2 separate regions of the Homo sapiens genome follow, and region 2 is linked to region 1. The links come from fine-mapping of genetic effects on gene expression. Tissue or cell type: whole blood. Region 1 holds a variant in brackets; the other region holds the start of a gene. All regions are shown on one strand. Distances are between the middles of the regions.

The links. PIP is the estimated chance that this variant, and not a neighbour inherited with it, causes the effect.
Region 2: SLFN12 starts here. The variant in region 1 is fine-mapped to the expression of SLFN12 in whole blood (TOPMed, PIP above 0.99).

The regions. Positions count from the first base shown.
Region 1 is chr17:35,482,895-35,491,001 of GRCh38, forward strand. The region is part of intron 2 of SLFN12L (schlafen family member 12 like); the gene reads right to left. It also overlaps the pseudogene E2F3P1. Among named protein-coding and RNA genes, the nearest start is that of SLFN13, 38 kb to the left of the region's middle. RefSeq lists an enhancer at 4,282-4,561 and a silencer at 7,076-7,370. The variant G/A (reference allele first, on the strand shown) is at 4,233.
Region 2 is chr17:35,427,628-35,435,734 of GRCh38, forward strand. It overlaps SLFN12 (schlafen family member 12), which reads right to left and starts at 4,873. Exons shown (of 4, transcript NM_018042.5): 1 at 4,561-4,873. It overlaps SLFN13 (schlafen family member 13), which reads right to left. Exons shown (of 6, transcript NM_144682.6): 6 at 7,469-8,107. RefSeq lists enhancers at 1,392-1,451, 4,783-5,508, 4,877-6,076, 5,005-5,224, 6,045-6,284 and 1 more.

The DNA of each region.
Region 1 (8,107 bases):
ATGGCACACACTTCCTCCCCTCTGAGGTCCATAAAAGCCCTGGGCTCAGCCAGAGCAGGGGCAGAGGAGGAAGAGATGAAGAGAGGACCAACTTCAGAGAGGAACTACCCTCTCTGCTGATAGCAGGAGAGGACAGGACAACCAGCCGCAGAGTGGAACTACCCTCTCTGCTGAGCGCTTCAGAGACCTGAAGAGACATTGGCTGCAGAGAGAAGCAACGGTCCCCAGGGCCTCCTCTCTGCTGAGAGCAGCAAACGTAGGAAGGACCAGTAGCAGATAGAAGCTACCCTCCCCAGGGCCTCCCCTCTGCTGAGAGCTGAACATTCCATGGGATGACCTGCCTACAGAGAGGAGTTACTCACTGCAGGTCTCCTCTGAGCTGTCCTAACATTTAATAAAGCTCATCTTCGTCTTGTTCACCCTTCACTTGTCTGCATACCTCATTCTTCCTGGACACAGGACAAGAACTCTGGCAAAGGTGCCGCCAGCCACAGAGGTTTCTGGCCAGAAAATCAACACCCTGAAGATCCTGTAACACAAGCTCACCCCTTCTGCCATATGAAAAACACAGAAGAAGTTGACAGTCTGCAATGGGAAGAAGGTCCTCACCAGAATCCAATGATGCTGGTATCTTGATCTTGGACTTCCCAGGCTCCAGAACTGAGTAATAAATTTCTGTTATTTATAAGTCACCCAATTTATGGTATTTTGTTGTGGCAGGCCAAACAGACTAAGACAGTGTGCTTTAGTCTATGTATACATAATCCATTAGCTCTTTTCCTTTAAAATCTATTGGGATCACTGTTTTGCTATAGACGAAAACCTAAAGACTGTAGGTTTGTCAAGTGGCCTAGAGACAGTTGAGAGTAAAGTCCATCATAGGTAGTAATCACTACACTAGGAAAGGGCTATAAAGGGGTCAGAATATTCCTGTCCACTGCTAGACCACTATCACGCAGATACTCAGCTAAGGTTGTAGATACCACCTTTGTCTCTATAAATTTCTGATCATGTGTAAACAATAATAAAATTGAGGCCCCAGATCATTTGGACAATTGGGGTTACATCAAGAGAATTCATATGCAAATCATGGTGGTGACATACAGAGGAAAAAGAACCGTCTATTCCATATAACACTTAACAATTTACAGGGACCAGAGTAGATGTTCAATAAATGACACAACTCCTTGTGCACCAGAGTAGTCACCACTCCCCATGTGATTTGGGGACTCTGTGCTTTTGCATAGGTGTGCTCTGAGACTCTAATGTTTTCCTCCACCTTTGTCACCTGATAAACTCTCTATCATCCATCCCAGAACTCCCATATTTGTCCTTCACTCTCTGCTACTCCCACATAACTTTGTACCTATACTTGGCACTAATTTCACCATAGATCTAGGGAAATATTTAGAAACAAAGCAGTGAAGTGGCCAGAGCAGTTGTTTTCAAACTGCAGGAAATCAAGCGAGGACTCCCAATCATTTAAGACACCAGAAGGAAAAGCTTTGGTTCAGTTCCTACCTTAGACACTGAACCTCAGGGGGTTCAAAGCACGTTCCATGTTCTGGAATGCCCTCCTTGAAATTATCTAAACCATTTCCAGTGCCAGGTACCAATCAGCACCAGCAGTGTCATCCTGGCAGGGTGCCCCAGACTGGACAGAACTACTAGCATCCCTGTTCCTTCCATCTGGGAAACTCAATGGCCCTTCACCCAAGAAACCCTGGGACTTGTGGCTGTGGGGTTGTCCTAGGACCTCATGGCTAGGTCCTATTCCAGGAGAATAGCCTGGCAAGTGCATTGCTCTCACTATCTGGAGCAGGATTTCTTTCACAGGATCAAGTCAGATTGGATTGCCAGGATGGTGCTGATAATGCTGATTTGGGTTTATTCAAATTGTTTATATTGACAGAGGCTCACAAAAAAAAAATTTACTCGGGTAGAATTTATTACTGAAGTCATCTGGTCCATGGCCTTTCTTAGTTGGGTTTTAGATTACTGATTCCATCTCCTTACTAGACATAGGTCTATTCAGATTTTCTGTTTTTTCCTGACTCAGTGTTGGTAGGTGATGTGTTTCTAGGAATTTGTCCATTTCATCTAGGTTATTTGATTTGTTGGCATACAATTTTTTACAGTACACTCTTATAATCCTTTTGATTTCTATAAAATCAATAGTAATGTCTCTTCTTTCTTTTTTGATTTTAGTTGAGTTTTTTCTTTCATCAATCTAGCTAAAGGTTTGTCAATCTTGATCTTTTCAAAAAACCAACTCTTTATTTTTCATTAATTTTTTCCTACATATTTTGACTTTTTAGTATAGTCATTTTGACTAGATGAGATGGTATTTCATTGTGATTTCGCTTTGCAGCTCTCTGATGATTAGTGATGTTGACCTTTTAAATGTTTGTGAGCAGCTTGCATGTTTTCTTTTGAGAAGTTTCTGTTCATGCCCTTTGCACATTTTTTAAATGGAGTTGTTTGTTTTTTTCTTGATTCATTTAAGTTCTTTATAAAGTCTGGATATTAGTCTTTTGTTGGATGCATGACTTGCAAACATTTTCTCCCATTCTCTAGGTTGTCTGTTTACTCTGTTGAGACTTTTGCTGTGCAGACGCTGTTTAGTTAAGTCCCATTTGTCTATCTTTGATTTTGTGGCATTTGCTTTTGAGATCTTTATAATAATTTATTTGCCCAGGGCAATGTCTAGAAGAGTATATCCTAGATTTTCTTCTAGAACTTTTATAGTTCGTGGTCTTACATTTCAGTCTTAATTTTGAGTTAATTTTTGTATATGGTGAGAGACAGGGATCCAGTTTCATTCTTCTGCATATGGTTAGCTATTTATTGAATAGGGTGTCCTTTCTCCATTGGTTATTTTGGTGGACTTTATCAAAGATGAGTTGGTTGTAGGTGTGAAGCTTTATTTCAGGGGTCTTTATTCTGTTCCATTGGTCTACGTGTCTATTTTTGTATCAGTACTATGTTTTGGTTACTGTAGCCTTGAAGTATAGCTTGAAATGCAGTAATGTGGTGTAAGGCTCCCTATCCTGTTTTGTTCTTTTTGTTTAGGATTGCCTTGGCTATTCAGGCTCTTTTTTGGTTGCATACAAATTTTAAATCATTTTTTCTAATTCTGTGAAAAATGACATTGGTAATTTCATAGGAATAGCATTGAATCTGTAGATTGTTTTGGGGAGTGTGAACATTTTAATGATACTGATTCTTCCAACACATGAGCATGGAGTGCTTTTGCATTTGTTTGTGTCGTCTATGATTTCTTTCAGCAGTGTTTCATAGTTCTCCTCGTAAAGTTCTTTCACCTCCTTGATTAGCCCCTGCTCTCCAATTCTTCTTGCAGCCTCTGTAACTGGAGTCCTGTCCCCTTTCCTCCCAGCCCAACTTCCTGCACTGTCTGTATCAGGCCTTGCCCTGGATGAACCCTTTTGGCTCACCCACCATACACAGAAGGTGACAGAAATCACATCTCACCCTCAGATTGCTTAAGGAGGGTACGCATACCACTGGGAAACTTGGAACCCATGGGAGCTGCAGTTGAGCCACCTTATAGAGGACCGAGCACTTGTGGACTAGCCTGGGATCCTGGCCACCCGAGTCCAACACCTGCAGCCATGTAAAACTTTCCATGGTTCAAAACCTCAGGCTTCAGGCATACATCTGGAACACAATGCTAAAATTAAATAAATAAATAAATAAAAACGAGCTGAGGACTGAGCCGACCAAATCTCTAGGGCCTAAAACTCACTGGCCTCCCTTAAACCTTGGGTCTAGGTTTACAGGTTAGATGTTTCCACTGAAATCCTTTATACTTTTGACTATAGGGGAAATTCTATCAGACCTGAACTCATGATTTAGGCTATGTTGTTGGCTATCTTTAATGGGAATGGGGGTGGCATTCATATCTCCTTAGAGTTATGCCAGAACAACAGGTTAGTAAGAACTGCAACCCACAAGGGTGGGACAGGAGGCAGAAGAGCTACCTCCTGGGGAGCAAAAAGCATAGAGCGTGATTTGCCGTCTTCGGATACCACTTTGCATTTAGTTCGGAACAGCACTGCTTTCACCCTTTCCCTCTTCTAGATGATAAACCAGCAGCGCAAGAGGGTGCTTGGTTTTTCTTTCAGGATCTAGGGCGCAGTTCGTCAGTGCCTGGTCACATTTCACCTAAATAACCCATTCCCCAACTCCCTGAATGCTCAGGACTCCAGGAG[G/A]GTGGGCAACCCCCATCCGATGGACACCTGCCAAGTCTGGCCTGTCCATACAGCACTCCCCACTTCTCCAGCTCTGCACCAACACCTCACGGGCTTGAGCCACCGCGCCCGGCCGCCCTGCGGCTTTTTAAGGCGCTCCCCAGCCCACGCACGGGCGGAAGTTTTGTCATCTACAGCTTTCAAGTCCTCCATTGCTAAGTCTACAACAGCCTGCGGTTTTGACAGACATTGCTACAGAGACAGGAGCCAACTTTCCCAGAAGGGAGAGAAAGCAGCCTCGGGTCTCCCCGAGATCGGTGGGGTTGCTCTGGCAGCGCCCCACCTCGTCCCGGAGCCCACGGACCACCCCCCCCGGACCCCCGGAATAAGAAACGGAGGCTGGAAGGTTTGGCAGTGGAGCGGGACGAATTTATCTGCCAGCAATTCCCTGGAAACAGGATTCCTTGCAGGCGCTGTGCCAGCGCGGGCCCTTAAGCAACTGAAAGTTAAACGCCCACGTGAATAGCTCTGAGGGATCACGGAGAAGTTCTCGTTTCGTCTGTACCTATTTGTATTTTCTAAGGCGAAAAAAAAGTTATTTAAAGAAAAAGAGAACGAACCTGGCGAGGTCCATGTCTGCGCACTCTTCACCAAGTAGGGGGACCTGAGTTCTTTTCCACTTTCCTGCTCTCCGCGTCCGTGTGCGGCTAGCCCCTCGCTCAGCTGCATTTCTATCGGGCACTCGACTCCCCGGAAGTGGTGGCACCGCACGCGCTGTTATCGACTCTGCGCCTTTGGAAACGGTGTGTCTGCGAATCCAACGACGGGCGCGGTGACTCACGCCTGTAATCCCAGCACTTTGGGAGGCTGAGGAGGGTGGATCACCAGCTTAGGAGATAGAGACCATCCTGGCTAACATGGTGAAAACCCGTCTCTACTAAAAATACAAAAAAATTAGCCGGGCATGGTAGCGGGCGCCTGTAGTCCCAGCTACTCGGGAGGCTGAGGCAGGAGAATGGCGTGAACCCCGGAGGCGCAGCTTGCAGTGAGCCGAGATCGTGCCACTACGCTCCAGCCTGGGCGACAGAGCAAGACTCCGTCTCAAAAAAAAATTGACGAAGGACCAAACCCCTAAAGGGGTGACATTCCAGCTTGACTCGTATCCCAGAGCAGCCCTGCTGTCCCCTTGCTTGAAAGCGCAGTTGACGCCAGAAACCGGGGGAGAGCAGCTACTAATGCACAGGGGAGGAGGGAGGTGCGAGGAGCGGGTTGCTCTCAGAGAGACAGAGTTGAACAACTACCCCTTGCGGTGTAGGAAGTATCTTGCGGCCTTCTAGGCCAATTAGTTGGCTTCGAACAGTCCAGTGGCTCCTCTAACTGGATACAGCCCTCCTGTCACGTTGCTTTCGTGGGGCCCTTGTTATGGTAATTACGATAATACACGTTTCTCCAGCCCACACGTCTAAGAACTGTTGCGAGAACCCATACTTTTTGAAATGCACACAGGCCAAAATGACTCACTAACTGAGGAGTTCACCAGTCTGAATTGCCCTTTCTCCCTAGCTCCATCCCACTCCGGACTCAATTAAGGGCCTGCCGTTGGAAGTCCCATCTAGAATCTTAAGGTACAGGCAGAGTACTTCTTCACACTGAATGAGCACATGCATTGAAAGTATATAGCTGGCCGGGCGCGGTGGCTCAGGACTGTAATCCCAGCACTTTGGGAGGCAGAGGCGGGCGGATCACCTGAGGTCAGGAGTTTGAGACCAGCCTGGCCAACATGAAGAAATCCCGTCTCTACTAAAAATACAAAAATTAGCCGGGCGTGGTGGCACGCGCCTGTAATCCCAGCTACTCGGGAGGCTGAGGCAATAGAGTCTCTTGAACCGGGGAGGCGGAAGTTGCAGTGAGCCCAGATCCCGCCACTGCACTCCAGCCTAGGCGACAGAGCGAGACTTTGCCTCAAAAACAAAACAAAACAAAAGTACATAGCCGTGCTTTTCTTCATTTCATCTGATTCTCACGCCAGCTCTAAGGAAACAGCTTCACTGAAGTGAGGAAACTCTTCTTCAGTCACTGACTTACAAAATGGTAGTGCAGGGATTTTCCCAGACCACCAAGAAGGCATCCAAGAAGTAAGCAAAAAAGATTACGACGTCGTTCCTATACCGTGGCAGTGGCTCACGCCTATTATCCCAGCACTTTGAGCGGAGGAGACAGGAAGGTCGCTTGACCCCAGGACTTCAGGACTAGCCTGGCAATATAAGGAGACGTCATCTCTACAAATAATTTTTTAAAATAACCGGGCGTGGTGGCAGTGCACTTGTGGTCCCAGCTACTAAGGAGGCTATGGTGGGAGGATCACTTGAACTTGGGCTGTTGAGGCTGCAGTGAGCCGTGATCAGGCTACTGCACTCCAGCCTGAGCGACAGAGTGAAACCCTGTCCGTATATATATGTACATATATATATGTAAAATGAATGCAGCAATATACCCCCCAAAATTATATTAAGACCAACAGAGGTTTACTCTCGGTATCCAAGAGTGATTTAGATGTGAAAATCAATCGGCCTATTCACTGCATTAATGAAAAAAGGAACATCACATGATCATTTCAATAGATACCGAAAAAGCATTTGACTCTTGAAAGTTATCCTCAGAAAGAATACATATGACGTCTGCACTTATTCCATAGATCAAAACAAGTCACCTTGCCAAGCCTAATATCAATGGGGCAGAAAACTGTCATCTACTTCCGGAGAGGAACACCAACCTTGTGGAATATTATGACAGTTTATACAGCACAGCATCTTATGCTCCAAGTGGGACAAAAATCCCACAACCAGTCATGATTTTTAAAAAGAACCCTTAGCAAATTGGGAATAGAAAGAAATATCCGACATCCAGATCCTCACCACGAACACTTCCACCACCTCCTGTTCCCTCTCCCTCCAAAGCGGCGCCGTAGCCACCGGCCCCCTCCTCCCCAGTGCCCCAGGCGCGGAGCAGACCGCCGGCAACCTCCTCTACACCACGCCGCAGGGACCCTCCAGCAGAGCCGGGCTGCTGCAGCCACCAGCGCTGGGACGAGGCGGCAGTGGCCCTCTGGCAAAGTGAAGTCTGGAGCTAGGAGAAAGCGGTCATCAGTACCTCTCGGATGGTTCAAAAACCCCCAAGGGCAAAGGAAGAGCTGCACTAAGAAGTCCAGATACTCCAAAAACTCCAAAATCTACCTCAGAAAAAACACGGTACGATAGTCTCTTGATCTGCTCACCAAGAAGTTCATTCAGCTCCTGAACCAGTCACCCGATGGGGTCTTGGTTTTGAACAAGGCAGCGGAAGTGCTAAAAGTGCAAAATAGAAGGATTTATGATATCACCAAAGCTCTGAAAGGCATCCATCTCATTAAGAAGAAGTCTAAAAATAACGTCCAGTGGATGGGTTGCAGTCTGTCTGCGGATGGGGGCATGCTGACCCAGTGTCAAGGCCTGTCAAAAGAAATGACCAAGCTCACTCAGGAAGAGAAGAAATTAGATGAACTGATCCCAAGCTGCACGCTGGACCTCAAACTATTAACCGAGGATTCAGATCGTCAAAGGTTAGCTTACGTTACATATCAACATATTCGAAAAATTAGTGGCCTTAAAGACCAAACTGTTATAGTTGTGAAAGCCCCTCCAGAAATAAGACTTGAGTGCCTGACTCAATAAGAGAGCCTACAAATACATTTGGCAGGTACCCAAGGGCACATTGAGGTTTACTTATGTCCAGAAGAGACTGAAACACAGTCCAATGACAACAAACAACCAAGACCCCAATGGGAATATCCTTAAACCCACCTCGTTGGTTTCAACCAACTCAGGACATAGCGATTGCTCAATTTCTATGGGAAACCT
Region 2 (8,107 bases), 55 kb before region 1:
TGTATCAATATAGTATATACAACAAGTTTTGCAAAAATAATAATTAGCTATTCTTTAAAAACCTTATTAACTGCATAATTTCATACATGGTATTAATGTACCATTATTTAACTATTACCTTACAACTGAACATTGAAGTTGCTTTCAATCATTCGATATAATTATACTAGAATCTTGACTCAGTTATTTCAATGTTTGGGTATGCTAATCACACAGTCTAATTTTCATTGAGTCTAAGAGTGCCCTGGCAAAGCACTTCAATTATATATACAGATACGGTTCAGATATATACAAAGATGGTTAAATCGAGTATGGGAGGCCAGAACATGTAGACAGAAAAGAAGCCAGATTTCAGGATATAAGAAATGGAACCTTGAAGGGGAAAAATTATGTAAGAGAAGAAAGAGTCTGAATCTGTGGAAATAAAGGTTCATGGTGAAACATAAGGTTATATTTGAACCTGTGCCTTAGGTACATAATTAAGCTGAAATTATGTAAGTATATAGAGTGTATATATGTACACACAGAGAGAGACAGAAGTTTGTAAAAGTTAAATTACTGTATCAAGTGACAAAAACTTCAAAGATTTTGATATATATTATCAAATACTTTCCCAAATAATTGTATCAGAATTATCGCTAGCAAATTTATCTTAGTGGTGATTACAGCACTTTGCCTTGAACCTTTTGGGGGGAAGAGGATATGGTATAAAAGCTACTGGAAAGCATCTTAGTGGGGATTACAGAACTTTGGCCTGTACCTTTTGCGGGGAAGAGGATGTGGTCTAAAAGCTGTTAGAAAGCATCTTAGTGGGGATTACAGAACTTTTCCCCTGTAATTTTTGGGGGTAAGAGGATGTGGTCTAAAAGCTATTAGAAAGCAGCATCTTTCCCTCAGTGTTTCCTGAAAACTCAGAGAGAACAAAGAGAGGCTGCCTTCTAAGAGATATTGGACCTAGCATTCATTCAAATAGGCTCCCTGGGCCTGGGTCCATAGAAGAAAGCATTTGCATATGACCCAGGGAGATTCCAAAAAAAGAGAACCTAAGTGGGGAGGACCTGACTCCTGGTAGTTGAACAAGAGTGAAGCCAGGTAAGCACAATCATTGAAGTTTAAATTTAAAACTCAATAGTAGTCTCAATGTGGCATAATTATGCTAGAAAGCAGAGGAAGATGTATATCTCTGCCATGCTGAGCTTTCTCCTTAGTATTATAGCACAATTAGTGTTCTTTAGACCCAATTTCTTCATATTTCTTGCACATGAGGCTGCCCCAAAGGCAAGTCCACCTTCCCTGTTGACCAGACAGAAGAGATTCTCCATCTCTACCCACAAAGGCTGCAGGAGAATCAGTTCCACTTCTACCCAGGCGCACAGCCCCAGCCCTACAATTTTCTGGTAATGCCTCACCAAGCAGCCTCTGCTCTGCTCCCCGATTCTTTTTTGCAGCCTCTCTAACTAGAGTCTTGTCCCCTTTCCTCTTAGCCCACCTTTCTGCACTGTCTACATCAGGCTGGGCTCTGTGTAAACTTTTTTGCCTAACCCACCATACACAGAAGGGGACAGAAATCACATCTCACCCTCAGATTGATTAAGGAGGGTGCTCATACCACTGAGAAACTTGGAACCCATGGGAGCTGCAGTTGAGCCACCTTATAGAGGACCCAGCGCTTGTGAACTAGCCTGGGATCCCGGTCACCCCAGTCCAACATCTGCAGCTGTGTAAAACTTTCCATAGTTGAAAATCACTGCCTTCAAGCATACATCTGGGACAAAACCCTTAAAAAATGAGCTGGGGATTGAGCTTACCAAATCCCTAGGGCCTAAAACTTACTGGCCTCCCTTAAACCTTGGGTCTAGGTTTACAGGTTAGATGTTTCCACTGAAATCCTTTATACTTTTGACTATAGGGGAAATTCTATCAGACCTGAACTCACTATTTAGGCTTTGTTGTTGGCTATCTTTAATGGGAAAGGAGACAGCATTCAGATCTCCTTAGAGTTATGTCAGAACAGCAGGTTAGTAGGAACTGCCCACAGGGTGGGACAGAAGTTGTAAGAGCTACCTCCTGGGAAACAAAAATCATGCAACACTCTTTGCCCTCCTAGGATGTCACTTTGCATTTAGTTCAGGACAGCACTGCTCTCATCCTTCCCGCCTTCTAGATAATAAACCAGCAGGGCATGAGGGTGCTTGGTTTTTCTTTTAGGATCTAGCAATGCAGTTCATCAGTGCCTGGTCGCATTTCACCTAAAGAACCTATTCCCCAACTCCCTGCATGTTCAGGACTCCAGGAGGATGGATAACCCTGGGAGGTCTGGACACCCACCAAGCCTGGCCTGACCATAGAGCACTCTGCCCTCCCTGCCTCTCTAGCTCTGCTTGAACACTGCAGATCCCTGGCTCACTGGCCCCACAGCTCTTTAAATTTTCTGGTAATGCTTTAAATTTTCTGGGCTGCTCCCCAGCCCATGCAGGAGCAAAAGTTCCACCCGACCTATAGCTTCCAAGTCCACCATTCTGAAGTCCTCAACAGCCTGCAGTTTATTAGAAGTTGCTACAGAGACAGGAAAGTGTTACCGGTGGAGGGTGTCCTGCTCACTGAAACATTCTGTTTGCAGGAGAAAAACAAAAACTTGGTCTGTTCTAGGATCTATGTGTTTCCTTAAAGTCTTAGAATGAGCAACTCCATTTTGGTTTGGTTTGGTCTGTTGGGGCCATGAGCTCAGTCCAAAACACTGGCCTTTCACAATTTTGTTTTTTAAAATTCCCCCTTTTTGTTCAGGTTCTCACTTAGGTGAGAATGTAACCAAAACGTAAGGCCTTAGCGCCGCTCTCAGTTACCATCATTTTGGGTTTCCAGTCTCAGCACACCATCCATAGGTTACAGTGTCCTCATGGTCGCATATTTGTTTCACTTCTCATCATTCCAGTTGAAGAGAGACCATTTGACATTCTAGAGATGGCTGCATGCAAACATCGAAAACCTTTGAGAGAATACAGTGCACCAGGGAGCCTATTATTATGATGACTATTGGGAGGATAATACCAAGAGTTTGGAGGATGCTCCTTGCCCAGGGTTCCCATAAACCAAACCAGTTAAAATTAAATAGATCAAATAATGAACTAAATAAAGAATCTACCAACTTAAGTAAACAATCTCCTCATTAATCCCCTACAACTGAATCTCTTAATCTTCATTTAATGTATTTCTCCATAGACTCTAAGTGCCAGCAGCTGCACAGATACTTCTCTGTTCAGCCAATTCTATCATAACTTTCACAAAAGAATTTAAAGTCTGTTGTGTAACTATGGCCTTTACAGTAGATGTTCTGAGAACATCTATCCTATGGGTTCTAGGTTGTGAAGGGGTTGATTGTTCTCAGTGAACCATAAAAAGCTTTCTTTACCTGGTGAAAATACACTGTAGCATAATCATGGGAAAAGCTTTTATACAACAAGAAAACATGCATTGAAAGTGACATTGAATAAAATCCCTTTGTAAATGTTTAAATGGCCCATCGGGTAGCCAAATGTACCTGAAGCTTTGATTGTCTTCCCAGGAATATGGATTTGAGAAACCAAACATTGGTTATAAACAACTTTAGCAATTTATAAGTCAGCGGTTTCCATGGCAGTTTGATTTTTAAAGGTCAAACTTCCTCGCACTTCAAAGAACGCTGAGGCCAAACAGCACCAAAGGAGAACATCACACTTTAACCCGACACAACCCTGCTTAGAACAGCAGCACAAGAGCCTGCATACATGCAACTCCATCCCACTTTACCATTCAACAGCAAACTCCAGATTCCAAACAATATTGAGGCCAAACACTACTGCAACCGGAAGAGAAAATTCTAAGGAGGGCTTAGTACTAGGCCTAAGAACCTCTACCAAAGGAACCCCCTTGGAGAGGCTGAGGTCCAAAGGATCCTCCAGAGCATCCCCCTTTAGGGTCCAATCTTAGAGCGTCAGACGTCTCTGACCTTAGGTGGTCACCAGTGCCACTTTACATGTTTTCCCTCCAGAGGGGATGGCCTACTGTGAGCTTTCCTTTTGTCTCTGGATGAAGGCCTTGACTTCTAGCATCCTTATAATTTGATAAGGCCATGCTTTCCCATGGTTCCCATTCCACTAGAGTGATAGTCATGAACTTTAATGATATGAAATGGAGGCTAGGTGGGTTTCTTTTAACCTTAGCCAGTAGAGTAGGGGAAGGGAAGAATTTAACATAAGGAAAGAAGGTTTAAGTCACCTGAAACACGTGTGAGTTCGCCCTGGAGAAGCTGCGTCACACATAGGGATCAGGGACCACAACCAGAAAAGACAGAAAAGAGCCCTTCCCGCTTCTGGGCAGGGCAACTATCCCCATTCACTCCTTGGCCTTCAAGGCAGCACTGGAGAGTAGCCCCCGGCCAGAAACCTGCAGTCGCCTCCGTGTCTAGGCGCTACCCACCAAGGATCCCACGTTGGAAAGGAAAAGAGAAAGAGAGAGATTTACCTGTATGGAGCAGAAAGGAAAAGGGAAAGGAGAAAAATAAATCCCAGACTTTGGGCTTACCTCCTGGTTGGCTTGCCAAAATATGTTACCAGTGAAGAGTGTCCAGGTTCTTGGCGTGTTGAACAAAGAACTGGACAAACACACAAACAAAGCAAGGAAAGAATGAAGCAACAAAAGCAGAGATTTATTGAAAACGAAAGTGCACTCCACAGGGTGGGAGCAGGCCCGAGGATAGCGGCTCAAGAGCCCGGTTTCAGAATTTTCTGGGGTTTAAGTACCCTCTAAAGTTTTCCCACTGGTTACTTGGTGTGCACACAATGTAAATGAAATAGGAGCCCGAGATCAGTCTGAATGGTTGCAGAAAGCGATCAATGGGAGGCTGAAGTGAAGTTACAAAGTTATGCCCTATGAAAACATCTGATTGGACGCAGAAAGCGAAGTTACAAAGTTACATTCCTATGCACATGAAGACTTGGCCCTGGAGACCAGTCTGATTGGTTGCGGGAGGGGACCAATCAGAGGTATTTTCAGTTTTTCATCTGCCATGTAGAAAAGGAGGGGCTACAAAGGAAGTTTGTGGAAAGTTGGGATTTTCCTCCAGACCCTTATTCTCCTGCTTCAGAAGGGAGAGAAAGCAGACCGGGATGGGGGTGCGGGGATCTTCCCGGGAGTGGTGGGGTTGTGTTACCAGTGCCCCACCTCCTCCCGAGCCAGCAGACTCCCCAGAAATGAAAAACTAAGGCTGGAAGGTTTAGCGATGGAGCAGGACCAACTTACCAGCTCGCGGTGCTCCCTAGAAGCTGGATTCTTCGCAGGTGCGAGCACACCCCAGATGCCAGCGTGGACCCTTGAGCAACTGGAAGTTAAAAACCCACGAAAACAGCTCTGAGTGATCTCTAGGGAGCTCTCGTTTCTTTTTCACCCATGTGTATTTTTTAAGACAAAAAGAAAAAAGGTAATTTAAAGAAAACAAAGAACAAAGGAACTTGGCGAGGCCCAGGCTACAGTCCGCGGGCTCACTCTCCACAGAGTAAAAAGAACGCGAATCCTTTTCTGTTTTCCGGCCCTCCCCATCCTGGGCTGCGGCTCCACACTTCCCCAGCGTGGCCTGCATTTCTATTGGGCAGCTGGCGCTCCGGAAGTGTCCGCACTCTTTATTATCGACTCTGCGCCTTTGGGCAATTGTCACTATTTTGGTTCATCAAAATTGAAGAAATACCAGGCATTCTTACCATGCCCCTAAAGGGGTGACTCAACCTTTCCAGCTGTACTCGCATTCCCAGAGCAGCACTGCTGCCCCCTTGCTTAAAAGCACGGTTGCCCCCAGGAACCAGGCCAGGGCAGCTGTGGATGGACAGGAGAGGACAAAGGTGCAAGGAGCGGATTGCTCCAGGACAGACAGATTCAAATACCTACCCCTGGCAGTGTAGGGAGCATCTTGGGGCCATTTGGGAGATTCCTTTATTGGGATGCTCCAAAGGCTAGTCTGGCCGGATACAGTCCTCCTGCCACTTTGCTTTCCTTTAGCCCCCTTATTATGATAATTATGGTAATACATGTTTTTCCTGCTAACTTGTCTAAGAATTGGTGTCTCAGTACATAGCTTTTGAAATGCACACAGGCCACGATGACTCATCACAGGGGAATGTGCAAGTCTGAGTTGCTCCTTCTCCGCAAGCTCCACCTACCCCACTCTGGACTGCATTAACTGCCTACTGCCTATTCTAAAATCTTAAGGTACCTAGGAAGAGTACCTATTCACATTAAATAACGTATATATTGAAAGCACATAGCTGCGCTTTTCTTCTTCTCATCTGATCCAGACGCCAGCTCTATGGATACAGTCTCACCGAAGTTAAAAAACTATTCTTCAGTCATTGGCTTAGAAAATGCTAGTGCCGGCTGGGAGCAGTGGCTCATGCCCATAATTCCAGGACTTTGGGAGGCCGAGGTGGGTGGATCACCTGAAGTCAAGAGTTCGAGACCAGCCCAGCCAACGTAGTGAAACCCCCGTCTCCACTAAAAATACAAAAAAAATTAGCCGGGCGTGGTGGCAGACCCCTGTAATCCCAGCTACTAGGGAGGCAGAGGCAGGAGAATCAGTTGAACCTGGGAAGCGGAGGTTGCAGTGTGCTGAGATCATGCCACTGCACTGCAGCCTGGGCAACAAGAGCAAAACTCTGTCTCGGGGAAAAAAAAGGAAAGAAGAAAGAAAGAAAGAAAGAGAGAGAGAGAGAAAGGAAGGAAGGAAGGAAGGAAGGAAGGAAGGAAGGAAGGAAGGGAAAGAAAGAAAGAAAGAAAGAAAGAAAGAGGAAGGAAGGAAGGAAAGGAAGGAAGGAAGGAAGGAAGGAAGGAAGGGAGAGAAGAGAGAAAGGAAGGGAGGGAGGGAGGGAAAGAAAAAAAGAAAGAAGAGAGAGAGAGAGAAAGAAAAAGAAAGAAAGAAAGAGAAAGAAACAAAGAAAAAAAGCTAGCGCAGGCCGGGTGCGGTGGCTCACGTCTATAATCCCAGCACTTTGGGAGGCCGAAGTGGGTGGATTGCCTGAGCTCAGGAGTTGGAGACCAGCCAGGGCAATATGGTGAGAGGGCATAGTCGTGCGCGCCTTGGTAGTCCCAACTACTGTGGTGGACTGGGGAGGGTGTGGGGGCGCTGAGGCATGAGAATCGCTTGGATGGAGGCAGAGGTTGCAGTGAGCCAAGATCACACGGCTGCACTCCATCCTGAAAGACAGAGCAAGGGATTCTATCTCAAAAAAAGAAAAAGAAAAAAAAGAAAAGAAAAGAAAAAGAAAATGCTAGTGCAGGGATTTTCCCAGAGCACCAGGATGGCTTCCAAGGCAGAAACAAAAGACATTAAGAAGTTGTTCCCATGGGAATGTGTGTGGCAGGCATGACATATCAGATCAACTTGGAATAGAAAATGCATATCCCAAAAGGCCCCTCAAAAGTGAGCAGAGTAAAAACATTCACAGAACTTTTAAATTATGTTTTTATTAACTATTGAGTAGAAACAATATTTATAGAATACATATAAGGTATAAAGAACAAAAGTATGAACATCTGTGAACCCCTTACACGGCTAAAGAATATTAACAATAAGCCTCTCCTCAGAGGTAAAACACCATATCAAAGTTTACATTGAACCTTGTGTTGCTATTCTTTATAGTGTTTTGCGGGGAGGGGGTTGGGGGGTTGTTCTGGTTGTTTTTAGCCCACTGCAGCCTTCACCTCCTGGGCTCCAGTGATCCTCTCACCTCAGCCTCCCAGTAGCTGGGACTACAGGCACACACCACCAAACCCAGCTAATTTTTAAATTTTATTTCATTTTATTTTATTTTTTGTAGAGCCAGGATCTTGCTATGTTGCCAAGGCTTGTCTCTAACCCCTGGGCTCAAGTGATTCTCCTGCCTTGGCCTCTGGAAGTGCTGAGATTACAGGTGTGAGCCACCATGCTGGCTTGCTGTTTGTTCATGCTGTAAATTCCCTTTGTTGATTTCCAAAAGTGTTTTTATACTTCTAAGTTGCTGAGAGTCCTTATTATGAATGGATGTTGAACTTTATCAAAAGCTTTTTCCTCTATTCAGATGATCATGTGATTTTTCTCTTTTGA